Linked DNA regions of Homo sapiens: region 2 is linked to region 1. Evidence: fine-mapped expression QTL. A gene starts in region 1. The other region holds a variant in brackets. All regions are shown on one strand. Distances are from middle to middle. Region 1 holds the start of NAP1L3 (nucleosome assembly protein 1 like 3). Region 2 has its middle 64 kb from the start of FAM133A.

Region 1 (5,383 bases):
ACAAAAAAATGAACTTTATGCACTGTTGGAACTGTAAATTGTGATAATAATTCTGCAGAGAGTTTGGCAATATGTATACAATAATAATTTCATAATATGAAATGATCATCCCCAAGCCATCCATTTCTAGGAATTTATCTTATGACCAATTTTCACAAGTGCATAGAAATACATGCTTTAGGTATCCAGGGACACTTTGATTATAGCAGGAAAATAGTATGTATTTAAGGGGAGAGATGGTATAGAAATGGCCACCCTATAACAGGAATCTGGTCAAATAAATTAAGGCAATTATTTCCATGGAATATGCACTTACTTAAAAATAAGATGTCGATCATTTGCCATGAAAATATAGCCATTAGTAATTGATAAATTAAATGAAAAGATTACAAAACATAATATGGTGTCACATAGATAAAGCAGTATACATAAATAGGCAGGTATGTATATGCACAAGGAAATTTCTGGAAGGAAGTGCATCAAAATGCTAGTAATTCTTATCATTTGGTGGTTAAGATTTTGTGTTTTTACTACTGTTGGAATTTTCTATATTGTTTTATCTTTGCAATGTTCACAGACTTTGACAATTAGAGATAAACAATAAAAGTAAATGCATTTATGAAACAGAAAAGCGTTTCCTAACTTTTAAAAAACGTGATTACATGACAAAGCACAAATTCTATAAAGATTAATCTAACTTTAATACATTTCCTCATTTGAAATGAATAATTTATCATATTTCATATTTTAATTTACCACTTGTATTCTATGACCAGGTTTAGATAGTTAATGCGGTTAAGTATGTAATTGTCTACATTAGTATGCCAAATTACCTCTGTGGATTTTCCTGTTTCCATAGAATTATCAAGATAATTCTCTAAAATAAATCTTTAAATGACTGTATCCTGTAAACTTTTATTCAGATGGAGATGAGTAATTTTTGTCATTCTTTAAAATGTGCTAAATATGATCCTTACCTTTCAATGAAAAGTAAATACTCGTCTTTTTTATTGTACCAAGGGAGTTGTTCTGTAGCAGAAAAAAAAATCCTGTAAATAAAAATAACAAATACTCGTTTTTAAACTTCATTTTGCAAAAGTTTATTCACATATTACTGGACTTGTAAATCATACTATAGTATGGCTAGAATTTTACAACATTAGAAGGAAATTGGTGGCAGATGACATCGCATACACTGACAGAAGATGCACATTCATTAGCACAAATTCCCCCTCCCATCCCACTGTTCTTGGAATTGAAACCTGCTGCACAAAAGTATAACGCAAATCATTTGCTTTTTAACAATACTACCTAACATTTAATACCTCTTTGTTTTATCTACAAGGTTGTTACAAGCATTGAGAAGGGCTACGTGGCAAGTTAGCAGCAAGGTTGGGGTATATAATATGCCAGCCTAAAAAGAGAAATATAATAAAAATGGTGTAACTGACTCACGGCAACATGGGTTCGCAAACCTTGTAGATGGATATAAACCAGGCTTGCCAAACATCACAGACAGCACTTATTAAATCAGCTTCGTGGAATGCAATACGCCTGCTGTCTAGTCCCTCCCTCCTCTGCCAATAACCGACTCTCCCCTTTTTTATCCAGTGTAAAAATGCATGCTCATAGAATATTTAGAGAAAATCGTTTTGTTTTTAAATCGTCCATAGTCACACTACCCAATGACGCCATTTGGACCATTTTCATTCAATTTTTTTTTTTTTTTTTTTTTTTTTTTACAGCTTTTTGTCAAGAGACCCGTGACAAACTAAACGGGAATTCAGGGTGGGCGGATGGGAGAAGGAAGACACGCCTCTTTTGCCCTTGTTAGGAACTATGGCTGGTATTTTTACCTCATGTCTACGCTTTTTTTTCTTTTTTAATTATAAAACTATAAATATAGACTTTTTGGGGGGCAGGGGGACACCTTCCAAGGGGTCGCACCTCAGCCAGCGAGCGGCGTCTGGGAAGGTGGGCGGAGCCAGGAGTAGTGGCGTTTGGCCGTTCGTTGGGCGTACAGTTTGTCAATTAAGGTGGACCAGCAAATGAGGAGCGAACTAAAGGCACACTGGGAACGAAATTAACGGGAGGTCTGACTGCAAGGGGAGGGGGCTCGCGATCTAAAACGAGAAGAGATCTCGGGGTCTCATACTGCGCCATTCGGCTGCGGTACATCTCGGCACTCTAGCTGCAGCCGGGAGAGGCCTTGCCGCCACCGCTGTCGCCCAAGCCTCCACTGCCGCTGCCACCTCAGCGCCGGCCTCTGCATCCCCAGCTCCAGCTCCGCTCTGCGCCGCTGCTGCCATCGCCGCTGCCACCTCCGCAGCCCGGGCCTCCGCCGCCGCCACTCAAGCATCCGTGAGTCATTTTCTGCCCATCTCTGGTCGCGCGGTCTCCCTGGTAGAGTTTGTAGGCTTGCAAGATGGCAGAAGCAGATTTTAAAATGGTCTCGGAACCTGTCGCCCATGGGGTTGCCGAAGAGGAGATGGCTAGCTCGACTAGTGATTCTGGGGAAGAATCTGACAGCAGTAGCTCTAGCAGCAGCACTAGTGACAGCAGCAGCAGCAGCAGCACTAGTGGCAGCAGCAGCGGCAGCGGCAGCAGCAGCAGCAGCAGCGGCAGCACTAGCAGCCGCAGCCGCTTGTATAGAAAGAAGAGGGTACCTGAGCCTTCCAGAAGGGCGCGGCGGGCCCCGTTGGGAACAAATTTCGTGGATAGGCTGCCTCAGGCAGTTAGAAATCGTGTGCAAGCGCTTAGAAACATTCAAGATGAATGTGACAAGGTAGATACCCTGTTCTTAAAAGCAATTCATGATCTTGAAAGAAAATATGCTGAACTCAACAAGCCTCTGTATGATAGGCGGTTTCAAATCATCAATGCAGAATACGAGCCTACAGAAGAAGAATGTGAATGGAATTCAGAGGATGAGGAGTTCAGCAGTGATGAGGAGGTGCAGGATAACACCCCTAGTGAAATGCCTCCCTTAGAGGGTGAGGAAGAAGAAAACCCTAAAGAAAACCCAGAGGTGAAAGCTGAAGAGAAGGAAGTTCCTAAAGAAATTCCTGAGGTGAAGGATGAAGAAAAGGAAGTTCCTAAAGAAATTCCTGAGGTAAAGGCTGAAGAAAAAGCAGATTCTAAAGACTGTATGGAGGCAACCCCTGAAGTAAAAGAAGATCCTAAAGAAGTCCCCCAGGTAAAGGCAGATGATAAAGAACAGCCTAAAGCAACAGAGGCTAAGGCAAGGGCTGCAGTAAGAGAGACTCATAAAAGAGTTCCTGAGGAAAGGCTTCAGGACAGTGTAGATCTTAAAAGAGCTAGGAAGGGAAAGCCTAAAAGAGAAGACCCTAAAGGCATTCCTGACTATTGGCTGATTGTTTTAAAGAATGTTGACAAGCTCGGGCCTATGATTCAGAAGTATGATGAGCCCATTCTGAAGTTCTTGTCGGATGTTAGCCTGAAGTTCTCAAAACCTGGCCAGCCTGTAAGTTACACCTTTGAATTTCATTTTCTACCCAACCCATACTTCAGAAATGAGGTGCTGGTGAAGACATATATAATAAAGGCAAAACCAGATCACAATGATCCCTTCTTTTCTTGGGGATGGGAAATTGAAGATTGCAAAGGCTGCAAGATAGACTGGAGAAGAGGAAAAGATGTTACTGTGACAACTACCCAGAGTCGCACAACTGCTACTGGAGAAATTGAAATCCAGCCAAGAGTGGTTCCTAATGCATCATTCTTCAACTTCTTTAGTCCTCCTGAGATTCCTATGATTGGGAAGCTGGAACCACGAGAAGATGCTATCCTGGATGAGGACTTTGAAATTGGGCAGATTTTACATGATAATGTCATCCTGAAATCAATCTATTACTATACTGGAGAAGTCAATGGTACCTACTATCAATTTGGCAAACATTATGGAAACAAGAAATACAGAAAATAAGTCAATCTGAAAGATTTTTCAAGAATCTTAAAATCTCAAGAAGTGAAGCAGATTCATACAGCCTTGAAAAAAGTAAAACCCTGACCTGTAACCTGAACACTATTATTCCTTATAGTCAAGTTTTTGTGGTTTCTTGGTAGTCTATATTTTAAAAATAGTCCTAAAAAGTGTCTAAGTGCCAGTTTATTCTATCTAGGCTGTTGTAGTATAATATTCTTCAAAATATGTAAGCTGTTGTCAATTATCTAAAGCATGTTAGTTTGGTGCTACACAGTGTTGATTTTTGTGATGTCCTTTGGTCATGTTTCTGTTAGACTGTAGCTGTGAAACTGTCAGAATTGTTAACTGAAACAAATATTTGCTTGAAAAAAAAAGTTCATGAAGTACCAATGCAAGTGTTTTATTTTTTTCTTTTTTCCAGCCCATAAGACTAAGGGTTTAAATCTGCTTGCACTAGCTGTGCCTTCATTAGTTTGCTATAGAAATCCAGTACTTATAGTAAATAAAACAGTGTATTTTGAAGTTTGACTGCTTGAAAAAGATTAGCATACATCTAATGTGAAAAGACCACATTTGATTCAACTGAGACCTTGTGTATGTGACATATAGTGGCCTATAAATTTAATCATAATGATGTTATTGTTTACCACTGAGGTGTTAATATAACATAGTATTTTTGAAAAAGTTTCTTCATCTTATATTGTGTAATTGTAAACTAAAGATACCGTGTTTTCTTTGTATTGTGTTCTACCTTCCCTTTCACTGAAAATGATCACTTCATTTGATACTGTTTTTCATGTTCTTGTATTGCAACCTAAAATAAATAAATATTAAAGTGTGTTATACTATAAAAATCTAGCCTTTTCTCCTGACTATAAAAGAGGGATGCTTATCATAGAAGAAAGTAGAGGATCACAAGGAAAAGGACAATTTAATAAAAAGATAACTATTATTAACATTCTGATGTATTTCCCACATCTTAGCTTTTCTGTTGGAGGACACTCATTCAAGATTTTGGAGAGCAATGGAACAAGGAAAAGGAACATGGCATGGAGGGAAAGGAAGGGAAAGGTAGAAGGGGATGGGGATGGGTAAGGGAGGAGGGAGAAAGGAGGGGTGGAGAAGAAAGAAGAGAGGTGAAAAAGGGAAAGGGAGGAAGGTGGGTAGCAGAAGGAATGTGGGGGGGGGGCGGTGGCAAAGGGAACTGGAGAGAAGAGGGGAAGGAGAGCAGGAGTGCCTCACTCACAACACCAGTTATGTAGAAGACAAGCTATGGACCCACCCTTCACCTTGACTTGGAAGGAGGTCACACTACCTTGACTCATTTTTTCTTACAGTGATACCAGGCTCTCATCTCTTCACCATGCAGCTGGTCACAAAGAGATCCTAAGATTTTGGTTTGAGATAAGTGTGAGGAGGTTCTCTCACACTTAAACT
Region 2 (5,383 bases), 66 kb before region 1:
TACTTAAGAATTCTGTTTTCTGGTGAAAATACTATCTACATTGAGAAAGTTTAGGACTGCGAGGGGGATTGTAGAAGATGAGCTTGCGAAGAAATATTAGGGCCAAAAATTGTGCGCTTGACCTTAAATGGTATGCCAAGGAACCAAAATATGAAATGACTTTTACTTGTTTGCATGTGTGTATTCATATGACTCCATGTGTAGCTCTCGATTTGCTTGTCTGTTAGTTTCTATACCTATATAATACTTCTTTATTTAGTAAAATGTGCTATTATTGAAAGTTCCCTTCTGTTTTTAATTATTTTATGTAGCTATCTCTTACCCAATATTTAAACCTTATCTGTGCTGTTCCTCTAAGCTCACACATTATTTCCTCTTGGAAGCCATTCTGACCCAAATACTCAGCCTTCATTTTGAGTTAGGTGGCCCTCTTCTGTAATTCTATAGCCACCTACACTTGGCTCATAACCTTTACCTACACTGTTAACCTTAAATTGTAATGGCACATTTATTTGTTCATTTTCCCTACCAGGCTTGAAAATCTTTGAAGTCAGAGACCAAGTTCTGTTAATTGTTGTACCAACAAGACCAGGCAGGGGACCTAGTGTATAGTGGACATTAAATAAATATTTTGTTAATGAGTTAATGATTTTTACTCCTATCTGACTCATGCATTTCAACAAGAGTTTTCAAAGTCTTGCAAAAGCATTGCTAATGCAGAAGTTTTAGTCAGGTTATGTGTTGAGATATTCTTTAGGTTAAGATTGTAGCTACCCTCTTATCAATGAGTATTACTGCCTCCACATCTTACCTCACTAACTTCAATGTATGCCTTAGTGTTTTACGTATCCATGTAGTACTGTGGTAATGTCCTTCAATCTGTCTCAGAAAGAAAGAAGCATGATCCAAGGATTCTATAAACCTGACATCAGGTACCATCAGAGGACTGAGCAAACCTTCCTTGAATAAGGTCTTTCTTTCATCTATATTTGTATGCTCCAGGTGCTATTTTAGGATACATTTGTTATTAATTTTTTGTCTTTAAATAGATTTTATCTGTGTATAAAATGTCTTCCCAACTTAGACAGTCAGAAGCTTAACATAGAGAAACATGACGGAAGCATAAATTAAAATTTTTAGTCTCTTCTCATATCTTCTTATAGCTACATATATGACACACAACAAAACTTACTGTCTAATTATGTAACTCTGCTGGGTAATTACTTCTCTCATTTAGGCAGAAACTTCTTTCCTGCACAGTGTCATCCTGACCTGAATGATTGTCAAACTGAAAACAATTTTGAAAATGGGAAAATTTAGATAAAAGGGCTATCACAAAGGCAAAAGAAATAAAACAGACAAAACCCTAAAATTGAGATGATTAAGAGGAAAATTGAGAAAACTATTTTGCCTTAAAAATTGTGAAACAGTGTCAGTTCCATGCATGAGGGAACTTATGTAATCAGTGGCCAGAAAGAATAATTATGAATGCTAAGCCTCAGACAATTGCAACTAGCAACTAGTTTTAACAAATACCTTTCATAACTTGTTTTTAACACACTTTTTTGATTAGGCCTTGCCACTCATGCTTGTAATCCCAGCACTTTGGGAAGTCAAGGCAGGAGGATTGCTTGAGATCAGGAGGAGTTTGAGACCAGCCTGGGCAACATGATGAGAACCCTGTCTCTAAAAACCAAAAACCAAAACAAAGAAACCCACAATTTTTTTTTATTGTTAACATAGCTATGGAAGAAACAGAACTGACAACCTCCACAGACATCTGAGCTGGCAGTGAGAACTGCCTGGAGAGCTGGATGAAACAGAACTCCTAGAGAAAGACCAGAGTGTTTGGTACCAGAAAGGCTGTAGTTGAGCACTGTCATGGGTTCCCATCCCCTAGGAAGATTGAGCCTTTGTTAGCTGCTGGAACTGGACAGAACAGGGCCATCTTGCCCATGGGATGAGGCCAGTCTGATCTGAACACTCCCTCATTTGCCAGCTTTTCCCAGGGTTTCTCTCTGGACATACCTGCTTGCAGCATGGCCTCAGATCCCTAGCCAAAACATTCACCAGTGCCCACTATTATAGCTCTTTCACAGGCAGACTCTGCCTACCCACCTTTGCAGACAGATCCCCCACTACTGCATGCATGGGGGCCCACCACTGCCCCACCATAGCACTTTTGATGGCCACACAAATCAGAGGATTATTGCCCATGAACTGAGAACACTTCCATCGCTCCAGTGCAGCAGGTGCTTAAACTCAAGAGTCAGGGAACAAAGCTGCAGGCCTGGTCCTAGCCCCCAGAGTGAGAGTATGCAGCACAAGAGTGCTGAGCTGAGCCTTGGCCTGCTGAAAGCATACAGAAACAAAGCCAATCCACTAAACCCAACTTATACCACAGTTAAACCCTCAAGGGCATCAAAGGATATAAAAGAAAAAAGCACCATCCTAAAGAGAGCAACTCCAAAGATTAAAGAAACATGAGCCCACACAGATGAGATACAACCAGCACAAGAACTCTGGCAACTGTAAAAGCCAAACTGTCTTCTTACTTCTAAATGACCCCACTAGCTCTTGAGCAATGATTTCTAGCCAAACTGAAATGGCTGAAATTACAAATGTAGAATTCAGAAACTGAATGACAAGGAAGCTCACAGAGATATAGGAGAAGGTTGAAACCCAATCCAGGGAAAAAAGTAAAATGGTCAAAGAGTTGAAGGATGACATAACCATTTTGAGAAAGAACAAAACTGAACTTCTAGAAATGAAAAATTCACTACAGGCATTTCAGAATGCAACTGGAA[G/A]CATTAATAACAAAATAGACCAAGCTGAGTGAAAAATTTCAGAGCTTGAAGACTGCTCCTTCAAATCAATGCAGACAGATAAAAATAAAAAGAATAATTTAAAAAATGAAAAAATCTCTACAAAATATGGGATTATATCAAGGGTACAAACTTACAATTCATTGGCATTTCTGGAAAAGATGGAGAGACAGCGGGCAACTTGGAAAACATATCTGATAATATTGTCCATGAAGATTTCCTGAACCTTGCTAGAGAGGTATATATGCAAATTCAGAAAATTCAGAGCACTTCTGTGACATACTATAATGGATGGCTATCCCCAAGGCACATAGTCATCAGATTCTCCAAAGTCAGTGCAAAAGAAAACAGCAACAACAAAATTAAAGCCAGCTAGAGAAGAGGGGTAGGTCAAGTACAAAGGGAACCTCATCAGGCTAACAGTGGACCTTTCAGCAGAAACCTTACAACCCTGAAGAGATTGAGGACCTATATTAAACATCCTTAAAGAAATTCCAAGCAAGAATTTCATGTCGAGCCAAACTAAGTTTCATAAATAAAGGAGAAATATGATCCCTTTCAGACAAGCAAATGCTAAGGGAATTTTTTACCATTAGACCTGCCTTACAAGAGGTCCTTAAGGGAGTGCTAAACAGGGAAATGAAAGACTGTTACCTGCCACCACAAAAACACACTTAAGTACATAGCCCACTGGCACTATAAGGCAACTATGCAATCAAGTCCAAGTCTACAAAACAACCAGCTAACAATATAATGACGGGATCAAATTCCCACATATTAAACTTGAATGTAAATGGACTAAATAACCACTTAAAAGACACAAAATGACAAGTTGGATAAAGAAGCAAGACCCAACTGTATTCTGTTTTCAAGAGGCCAATCTCACATGCAATGACACCCATAGACTTAAGGTAAAGAGAAGGAGAAAGATCTATGAAGCAAAGAAAAAAAAAACAAAAAGATCAGGAGTTGCTACTCTTATTTCAGACAAAACAGACTTTACACCAACAATAATTATGAACAAAGAAGGGCATTACATAATGATAAAGAGTTAAACAAGAAGACTTAACTATGCTAAATATATATGCACCCAACAAAAGAGCACCCAGATTTACAAAACAAGTTCTTAGAGATCTCCAGAGAGACTTAGATAACCACACAGTAATACTGGGAGACTTCAACACCCTACTGACAGTGTTAGATCATTGAGAGAGAAAACTAGCAAAGATATTCATGACAGACCTAACAAGCATCTACAGAATACCCCACCCATCAACAGAATCTATATTCTTCTAATCTGTGCACAGCACATACTCTAAGATTGACCACAGGCTCAGCCATAAAGCAATTCTTAACAAATTCCAAAAATAACAAAATCATGCCAACCACACTCTCAGACAACAGTGCAATAAAAATAAAAATAAAAATCAATACCAAGATCTCTCAAAACCATACAATTACATGGAAATTAAACAACCTCCTTCTGAAGGGTTTTTGGATAAAGTATAAAATTAAGGCAGAAATGTTAAAAAATCTTTGTAACTAATAAAAACAAAGATACTACACACCAGAATCTCTGGAACACAGCTAAAGCAATTTTAAGAGGAAATTTAACAGTGCTAAATGCCTATATAGAGAAGTTAGAAAAAGTTCAAATTATAATAACAACATAACAGCTCATTTAGAAAAATAGAAATAAAAGAACAAAGCAACCCAAAAGCTAGTACAAGAAAAGAAATAACCAAAATCGGAGCTAAATTGAATAAAATTGAGATGTGAAAAACTATACAAAAGATGAGTGAAACCAAATCTTATTTTTTGAAAGAATAAATAATATTGATAGACTACTAGCTGGACTAATAAAGATCAAAAGAGAAGATCCAATAAACAGAATCATAAATGACAAATGTGGCATTACCACTGATCTCACAGAAATACAAAAAAAAAAAAACAAAACAAAACTCTCAGACTATTATGAACAACTCTATGCACAGAAACTAAGAAACTTGCAAGATATAGGCAAATTCCTGGAAAAACACAACCTCCCAAAATTGAATCAGGAAGAAATTGAAATCCTGAACAGACCAATAACAACTTCTAAAATTGAATCAGTGATAAAAAACCTTACCAACCAGAAAAGGCTCTGGAACAGATGAATTCACAGCCAAATTATAGCAGACATATAATGAAGAGCTGATACCAATCCTACAGAAATTATTTCAAAAACTTAGAAGGAAGGATTCCTCTGTAATTCCTTCTATGAGTCCAGCATCATTTTGACACCAAAACCTAGCAGAGATACAATGAAAACAGCAAATGTCAGACCCATATCCCTAATGAACATAGACACTTAACTTTTTAACAAAATACTAGCAAATCAATCCAGCAGCACACCAAATAGTGCACCATGATCAAGTAGTCTTATTCCTGGGTTGCAAGGTTGATTCAATATATGCAAATCAATAAACATGAGTCATCACTTAAGCAGAACCAAAAACAAAAACCATATCGTTATCTCAATAGATTCAGAAAAGGCTTTCAACAAAATTTAACATCTC

What was found.
Region 2: its variant is fine-mapped to the expression of NAP1L3 in whole blood (TOPMed, PIP above 0.99).

What each region holds. Positions count from the first base shown.
Region 1 is chrX:93,670,347-93,675,729 of GRCh38, reverse strand. NAP1L3 (nucleosome assembly protein 1 like 3) reads left to right here and starts at 2,152. Exons shown (of 1, transcript NM_004538.6): 1 at 2,152-4,800. The coding sequence starts at 2,426. The coding sequence ends at 3,946. FAM133A (family with sequence similarity 133 member A) reads right to left here and starts at 1,524. Exons shown (of 4, transcript NM_001171109.2): 1 at 1,456-1,524; 2 at 978-1,049.
Region 2 is chrX:93,736,006-93,741,388 of GRCh38, reverse strand. No RefSeq gene overlaps it. Among named protein-coding and RNA genes, the nearest start is that of FAM133A, 64 kb to the right of the region's middle. The variant G/A (reference allele first, on the strand shown) is at 2,808.